Linked DNA regions of Homo sapiens: all the other regions are linked to region 1. Evidence: fine-mapped expression QTL. A gene starts in region 1. Each other region holds a variant in brackets. All regions are shown on one strand. Distances are from middle to middle. Region 1 holds the start of STXBP5 (syntaxin binding protein 5). Region 2 overlaps STXBP5-AS1 (STXBP5 antisense RNA 1). Region 3 overlaps STXBP5 (syntaxin binding protein 5).

Region 1 (2,763 bases):
AGCAAAAACTTCATCCTATCCCCCTTTCCCCGTTCTAGAGTGAAGCTCCCAGGGCATTACTGAGTGGCTCATCAGCGTCAGGGCAGATTGAAGGTTCTGAAAAATAGTGGCAGCGCGGCGTTTCCTGCCACCCGCGCTCCTCCCCGGCGAGGGGCTGGGTGCGGGGTAGTGTCATCGGCCCGGGCTGACACCGGCCCTGGAACCGTTCCCCGCTGGCAGCCTCTTCCATCCCAGCAGCTAACTGCTAAGACCAGACACGTTCCACCAACAGTAACAGCTGTAGGAAAGAACCCGTTTTTTCCCGTCTAGGTTTCTCTCCTTTTCCTAGTACCTAAGTCCATCATCCTCCTGCCACTGACATATCGTTGTCTAGACGCTCTTTTTCAAAACTCAAATCCAATCAAACAAAAACAACGCCCGTCAATAAAGCAAGAAAAATAATACTGCAGCCAGCGGCCAGGAGCGTGCACCCCATTAACGGCGAGAAAGCATCAACCCCTGCTGTAATGACTGAATTGGAAAGAAAGGTTTCCTGCTGCTTGTTAGTCGTCAACATTTTTACTATGCCAGCTGCAAGAGAAGCAGCTGCATACTCTGGCAACTCGACTGGGGTGGGAGAAATTTAGCCAGCGTCTGGGATTTTCGCAGAAGATAATTTAAGCCCCAGCTTCGCTCGGGCTGGGGGGCTGGGGGCCTGCTGGGCCAGGGTGGGGGAACCGGGCTGCGGCGCGCATGCGCAGGTACCGCAGCCCGGCTCCTGGGAGGCCCTGCTGCCGCCACCGCCGCGGCCCGCGCTGTAACCGCGGCTGCCGCTGCTGCTCCGGGCGGGCGTTGGTGCCGTGTGCCGAGGCGCCCTGTCAGGCGATGGGGAGCGGCTGGGCGGGGAGAGCCGACGGCCGCGGCGGCGCCTGAGGAACGCAGCCGGGCTCGGGAGCGGCGAGGGCGGGCCGGTCCAGCGGCGGAGGAGCGAGGCGGGGCGAGGCAGGCGGCGCGGGGACCCACACCAGGCGCCTTGTGTGCGAGGCCGAGCGGCGGCCGCGGACAGAGAGCCGGCGACCCCCGGCAGGAGGAGAAGGAGCCGGAGGACGCGCCGAGGGACTGCGGGGCCGGGGCGGGCGAGCAGCGGCGCGGCCGCGGGCCATGGACGCAGCGGCGACGGTGGCGGCGCCGGGGGCGAGCCGGGGCGGCGGCGCGGCGCAGAGTCCGCCCGCGGCCAGGTGAGGCTGGGCTGAGCGGGCTCGGGCGCCGCCGCCACTGCTGCTGCTGCTGCTGCCGGGCCGCGGAGCGAGGCGGCGGCGGCGGCGGCTGAATCGGCACCACAGCAGCCGCGCCAAGCAGCGGCGGCCTCGGAGGAAGAGGGGTCGCCGCCCAGGTTTCTTGCGGCCGCCGCTCTTGTCGTCGCAGTATTTCCTGTTCGGATTATCTTTTGCTTCCCCCCAGCTGCCTCCTTACCCTCACACTCCCACTCCTCCGTTTCCGCGGTCGAAGCTGCCTTCGGCCCCGGGTGGTCTCCCCCGCCCGGGGACCCCCTGTGCCTCCCCTCCCGGGCTGCGGGGGAGCCCCTCCGAGACCATGAGGAAATTCAACATCAGGAAGGTGCTGGACGGCCTGACCGCCGGCTCGTCCTCGGCGTCGCAGCAGCAACAGCAGCAGCATCCGCCTGGGAACCGGGAGCCGGAGATCCAGGAAACGCTCCAGTCCGAGCACTTTCAGCTCTGCAAGGTGAACGGAGCGCGCAGCCCCGCGACACCGTCATTGAAAAATTGGGGTTGTTTTAAGGGGGCTACTCGGGCTTTACATGGGAATGCAAGGGAAGAGAACGCCAATAATAATAATAATAACTCTAATAAAAGGCTCGCTCCTCCCTTGGCAAACGTTTCTTCGGTGGGTTGTTTTGGAGATTGATACCTTACTCCTTTTCATTGATTTTTCTCTCTCCCCTTTGCACATGCAGCAATCAGTTCAAGGTTGCTTCAAACTATTATCCGACCTTTAATCGTATTCTGACACTGCCAGTAATAACCTGGAAGCTTTTATATTCAAGCGTTTTAATATGATTCACCAACTTCGAAGTTTCCTTTGGAAACGGTGTCTAATGAATGTTGTTTATCAAAAAGCCAAACCTGTTCTACCACACCTTTGCTCATCACTTTTCCCTTAAAATGTGGTGTAAGTGGCTTACGATATGAAATCACAGGGTTCTTTTTATCATTATGTTTGTTAAAAAGTACTGAGATTTTTGCCTGTTAATGGCACGATAATTGCCATAGCGTTCTGTAATTCAGAAAGAATGATGCAGCGAATTAAGTCACCAGCTGCTTAATGAGAAACACAAACTTGCCTCGGTTTTAATACCTGCCTTTCTCATAAATAGCCATGTATTTGTATGTCAGAGTTAATTAAAAGTGTGCATATATATATATATATATATATATATAGGTCTAATGCCCTAAAATGATTATGGCCTTAATAGTAAATTGCAAAAATGTATGTTGTACTCATCTTCATTCTGTTACAAGTGTAAAATGTTGGGATAGAGGTTTGATTATTGCTCTACTGAATGCTTGACTAAAGTAATTATATGACAGCTTTTCCTTAGAAGTACTTGCGTTAGCATCCAAATAAAGTAATGATGAAATGAATACTGCCAAAATAAAGTATGAATTGCATTTAATGGGTTTACAGAATTTTGGACCATTGCAAACTTTAGTCATCTGGTGTCGGATGTAGTAGTATAGAATATTAATAAAAGATTTTCTTCTA
Region 2 (2,763 bases), 310 kb before region 1:
ATTTAACAAGAGGAGACTCTAATTTCCACAGCTTGATGAGAAAGATGTGGAGGTCTATCAAGGCCATGCCTTTCACATTTCTGTCTTCTTCAAGGTACCAAAAAAAAAAAAAAAGCTCATTAAACATTTCTAAGCACTGTTCTGACTATATTTGCCCTTCTCTTAACCTGAAGCTGGTTGGCTGAATTTGATGTTCTTCGTATCTGCAGTGCCTGTGTCTGCAGTGCTTATGTGAAATGTTGGAAATAGCCCTTGTAGCAGCTCTGGCCACACAGGGCTGGTAAAGTCTTCCAAGGGACAGTTTGTCTTTGGGGGTGTCAGGGAGTTCCTGAGCTGTGGCTCAGTCAATTGTCCTTCACTTATTTTAGTCATGCATATTTTCCTTTGAATAGTGAATTGTTAAGACAGTCCTAGCCTGGTCATGGAACAGTGTAATTCTTGAGACCAAATGGGGCAAAATCATCTTAGAGTTAGATCTTTTGAGTGGAAGTATTTCTTTACTTTCCAATATTCTGGTTATAATTTTAATTCTTGCAAATTAAGTCTTAAAACCTAGGGCTCACCTAAACAAGAGAGCATGTTAATAATTTGTTGCCTCTTCAAACTAATGTTTTAAAAGTATTTTCCCAGTGTGCATTAAGGAGAGAGGTTATGTGCTGTAGGGTGTGGCAGAAAAGAAGAGCTGCTCTTGGCTGTGCTGAACTGTTCTGAGCAATTTAGTCGGGATCTCAAATGTGCCTAACACTCTGCAAAATATGCCTGCCCTTTCCTGACCAACCATCCTCAGAATCAGGTAGGACATTCCTCACAGTCACCTGAGCCCGAGTCTGGAAAGTCTCTTCTCTTGTTTGTAGGGTCTTATCAAACTAATTCTTCCAACCACTTTTCCCTAGAGGAATTCTGGTAAATATGATTTCTTATACTTGTTATATTCCCATTGATGTCTTTGTAATCAGTGACGTTTAGTTCCCCTCACAGATTGATGCCAAAGGCTGTCTAACCTTTGATTCAGCTCTGTCAATCACTAAGGTCCCAAAATATATATAAATGGCCAATTTTGATACCGTGTCAGGGATTAAAAACACAAGGCAATATTTTTACATGTAACACAGGTACAGCCAAGATTGGAAACAAAACTAATAGAGATCCTGATAAATTCAGAATGTTCTTATTCATTTAATTTGTTAATGCTTAATTCTAACTTGAGGGATTCTGATAAATTTACCACTTAACTGAGAGGAATGTTTTTGAAATCAAGTATTTTGATCTAAGGAAAACACTGGGTAAATTTTCTGTCAAATTGTGAGCTGAGATGGCTAAGACTAAGTATATGCAAGAAGATAATGCTTGGGTATTTTTTTTAACTTTTTATTTTGGAAAATTTCAAGCCCATACAAAAATAGACAGGACAGTAGAAAGGACCCCTATGGACCTGTCATTTAATTTCAACCATTCTCTTCACATGACTTGTTTTGTTTCAGCAGCGCTGTCACCTCCCTCCACTCCTATGAAGATTCAGAAACATCTAGAAAGGCCAGGAAGATATATTGATACTAACAAGATGATATGCTATCAGCATAAATAGAAAAGTCTCCTTTTCAACATTTTTAAATGTATGTCTTTTACGTTAAATTCAGTTGATTTTAAGGACAGAGAACTGGCTTTAAAAGAATTTGTGAGGGAAAGA[C/A]CTTGAGCGAATGAGCTCAATATAAACCAGTTCTGGAAGAGAACTGATAAACAAGTGGACCATATCTAAGACAGCATGAAAAGTGGGTTTCAGATAAAGGGAGGCACCATGAACTCCTGCCTCATGAACCCCTATCTGAGATAAAATCTTTAACCCTGGACACCACACGATAAGAAAAATGATGTCTAAGCAGACTACTCTGTGAGAGAGAGAGAGAGACAGAAAAGGCGAGGATCCTAAAAATCACCTCACTCACCCAAGGAGCAGATGAAGAAGTTCAGCATGTCTCACTAGGATTAAAAATAATTAAAAACTTGCAGGACAAGAAAATTGCCTTCAATAACCTGAATGTGTGTTCATGGAAAAGAGACTCAGTTTGCCAAATTAAAAATATGATTTTTTTTTGGAGACTCTTTGCAGGCTTCTACTGGTGTAATTTGGTGATAAACCTTAGACTCTCTCCAGTGTCCTTTATTTTAGTAAATGCTACATATGAGGCATACTACAAGCCATCTCCCAAATGCTTCCTGTTTTCAACGGATAAACAGATGAAATCTAGATTCAAAAATTACAGCCGATGGTGTAGATATGAAAAAATTTAAACACTCCTAGTAACTGATGTCATATGATTTTGCTAATGTAGGAAGAGAATTATCCTTAATGAAAAAGAAAAGAACTAGATCCTGGGCACATTGTTCCACAACTTGAACTTTCCAGAAGAGAGGGGTAGGTTGTCAAGAGAAGGAGAAGACAAGCATCGCTTATAACAACGGTATTATTTCCAGAGCCAGGCATCAAGTATGGTGGATGTATGTGCTTCATAAATGCCAGCTGAACTGACAAGACACTACCTCAGGGACTTGTCTCAGGAACAAACACTGGGAAGATTCCTAAAACCCAATACTGTTTTACTCCCACCTTCTCCAGTGTCTGGAAGTTTGACCTTGGAACCCATTCCATTACCTTTTGAATGTTGCTCATGATTAAAATGCAAACAATTCTAGGACAGTTCATCCCCAGGCACGAAGTGGTCACATGGTATATACAAAAGATGGGTTCAGTGTCTATCAGATTTG
Region 3 (2,763 bases), 120 kb after region 1:
TGCAGGTATTTATTAACTTGACATTGTTTTGGTCCACAGTCCTAGAGGCCAGTTTCTTAAAGTAAGAAGTATAACAAAAATTGATGTTAAAATATAATATTGAGGCTTTTTTCATATAAAATGCCTTTGTTTACAATTGGTTTATTTGAAGAAACATTTTAAAAGCAGCTGTTTAAGACCAAGGAAGGGGATTGATTGAGACCAGGAGTTCAAGACCAGTCTGGATAACATAGTAAGATACCATCTCTACAATAAAGTTTTTTAAAAAATTAGCCAGGTGTGGCGACATCACCTGTAGGCTGAAGTGGGAGGATTGCCTGAGCCCAGGAGTTCAAGGTCACAGTGAGCTATGATCATAGCTGCACTCCAGCCAGGGTGACAGAGTGAGTTTCTGTCTCTTAAAAAAAGAGGTAAAAAAGAAAAGGCAGCCGTTTGACTTGTTTCTTTTAGCAATGAAATTTTATGTTTTTGAATTATTTTTATTGTCCCTTTGCAAGGTACTTGCTCAAACAATCATTTTGAAACTGTGAGGCTCTACGCATCACTTTAACATTTAAAATACGTTTGTACAAATTATGGAACTCTTTATAAAACTTTTTCCTTAAAAAGTAAACAAATCAACTTGAATATATTAAAAACATTAAAATTATACCATAACCATTTAGAATAAAGCATAACACCCTCTTCCCATTTCATATTTTTAAAATGTAACTTACCTGCTTTCATTTCTTGGCTTAGGTTTCTCATCCTTTACCATTTTGCATCATGTTTGGCTGCCTTTTTATTTTTACTTAAGAACGTTTTTTTGTTTCCTTATACTAACTAAAATAAGAATTCCATGAGTTCTGTGTGTCCTGGTCACTTAAATCTTAAATGTGCCCATATATGTACTTCTAAAATTATCCCTGGAATGCCTGGTTCTGCTCTTGAGAATTTGTCGTGCACATTTAATATGCCAGAGGGAGGGAGGACACTTCCTTGACCCTAACCTTCTATACCTAATTCATAGAAGTAGAAGATAGACCACTCAGACCCTTCAGTCTACTCCTGTGTCAAGGCTGACTCTGGGAAGAAATGAAATGCCTCAGTTGTTACTCTGTCGCTTGAGATGGAGAGCTGTAGCTGATTAGTGGGTATTTCCCTAAGAATAATTCAGAAATTTTGCATCAGCCAGTGTAGAGTTCTGAATGCATTGCCTTGCAAACCTTGACCAGCCAGAAGTGAACTGTAGTTCAATTCGTATAAGCAGTGCCCTCAGTGATTCACATTTACCCTGAAGTCTGAACAACTTTCGCTGTTTCCTAGCATGTATGTCATCAAAACACGAGGTGCCATGGTCTTCCACATTAGAAATACCAACTGAATAATTCAGAAGGGTTCTTACCTCTGAGTTTGGTGGCAGGAAATTCAACAT[C/T]GAGTAGTCTTCCTGCTGTTCTCTCACACACTGTCATTTCAAGGCAGAAGCCTTAAGAATTGCGGAAGTAACCAGGCTTTGCATATGTTTTGCTACAGCAATTACTAGGCAAAGAGTTGTGCAATCAAAAATGTTTTTAACTTAAAGTCATAGTAGAGTTTTTTACAATAAAAGCAGTCACACACTAAAATTGTTCACATTTTTTAAAAAAATGTGCCTTTCAAGTACACTTGAAGTTTTCTGGTACAAGTATAGCAGGTATTGTTTCAGAAGGTCTCACACTCTTTTAAACCCCTCTTTATCTCTTCCTTTCTAAAATCCTAATGACAAGTTTAGTTCAGCATGGATTTAACTATTCATGAGGTTTGGGAATAGGTAGTCATACCTGCTGACTAGTTTCACTTGTAGTTCTCTACCATCATCTCAAACTTAACCCCATGGTCTCCTAAAACTACCTCTTTATCCCTCCCTCCCTCCCTTCCTTCTGTCTGATTGTACATTCACTGTTTCTTCTTTTCTTCCTCTACCCTACCTCTACTCAACCTCCAATTCATTCAGTAAATATTGAGTACCTCTTTTGTGCCAGTGTTAAAAGTATTAATAGCTGCAAGGTTTCTGCCTTCCTGAAATGTAAAGCCTTGTCTGTTCTTACTCCATTAATGTGTTTCAATCTCCCTTTTTCTTGTTTCACATCAGAATCACAGGAACTTCCCAATTGGTGACCCTGTTCTACTTCGTCTTACCTATGTTCACCAAATTAATCTTCCCCAGATATTTCTTATCAACCTTCATTGGCCTTTAATTCTTCTTTTTTTTTTTTGGAGACGGAGATCTCACTCTGTCGCCCAGGCTGGAGTGCAGTGGTGCCATCTCAGCCCACTGCAACCGCTGCCTCCCAGGTTCAGGCGATTCTCCTGCCTCAGCCTCCCGAGTAGCTGGGATTGCAGGTGCTCACCACCACACCCGGGTAATTTTTGTATGTTTAGTAGAGACGGGGTTTCGCCATGTTGGCCAGGCTGGTCTCGAACTCTTGACCTTAAGTGATCTGCCCACCTCGGCCTCCCAAAGTGCTCTGATTATAGGTGTGAGCCACTGCACCCAGCCTGTCTTAATTCTTTAATAATGAAAATATATTACCTTTGTCTAATTTGACCATCTGCAAAGTACTTTTCATAGGCAGTCACAAGTTCCTCACATTGTGACTAGGTAGTAATACTCCCACTTTCTAGGTGAAAAGACAGCTGGTGAGTAACAGAATCAGTACTCAAAGTCCACCTTGCTGAGAGTTCTTTCTACCAACATCAAACCTTTGTGGACAGGACTTGAAGACCCTCTAAAGTCTGGCCCTG

Evidence for each region. PIP is the estimated chance that this variant, and not a neighbour inherited with it, causes the effect.
Region 2: its variant is fine-mapped to the expression of STXBP5 in adrenal gland (GTEx, PIP above 0.99).
Region 3: its variant is fine-mapped to the expression of STXBP5 in whole blood (TOPMed, PIP 0.97).

The regions. Positions count from the first base shown.
Region 1 is chr6:147,202,961-147,205,723 of GRCh38, forward strand. It overlaps STXBP5 (syntaxin binding protein 5), which reads left to right and starts at 1,457. Exons shown (of 28, transcript NM_001127715.4): 1 at 1,457-1,722. The coding sequence starts at 1,573. It overlaps STXBP5-AS1 (STXBP5 antisense RNA 1), which reads right to left and starts at 1,654. Exons shown (of 11, transcript NR_034115.1): 1 at 1,453-1,654. LOC124901422 (a long non-coding RNA gene) reads right to left here and starts at 611. Exons shown (of 2, transcript XR_007059803.1): 1 at 1-611. RefSeq lists silencers at 640-1,059, 1,090-1,139, 1,160-1,239, 1,410-1,599.
Region 2 is chr6:146,896,475-146,899,237 of GRCh38, forward strand. All of the region lies in intron 7 of STXBP5-AS1 (STXBP5 antisense RNA 1), which reads right to left. Among named protein-coding and RNA genes, the nearest start is that of LUADT1, 260 kb to the right of the region's middle. The variant C/A (reference allele first, on the strand shown) is at 1,688.
Region 3 is chr6:147,321,174-147,323,936 of GRCh38, forward strand. All of the region lies in intron 16 of STXBP5 (syntaxin binding protein 5), which reads left to right. Among named protein-coding and RNA genes, the nearest start is that of STXBP5-AS1, 120 kb to the left of the region's middle. The variant C/T (reference allele first, on the strand shown) is at 1,415.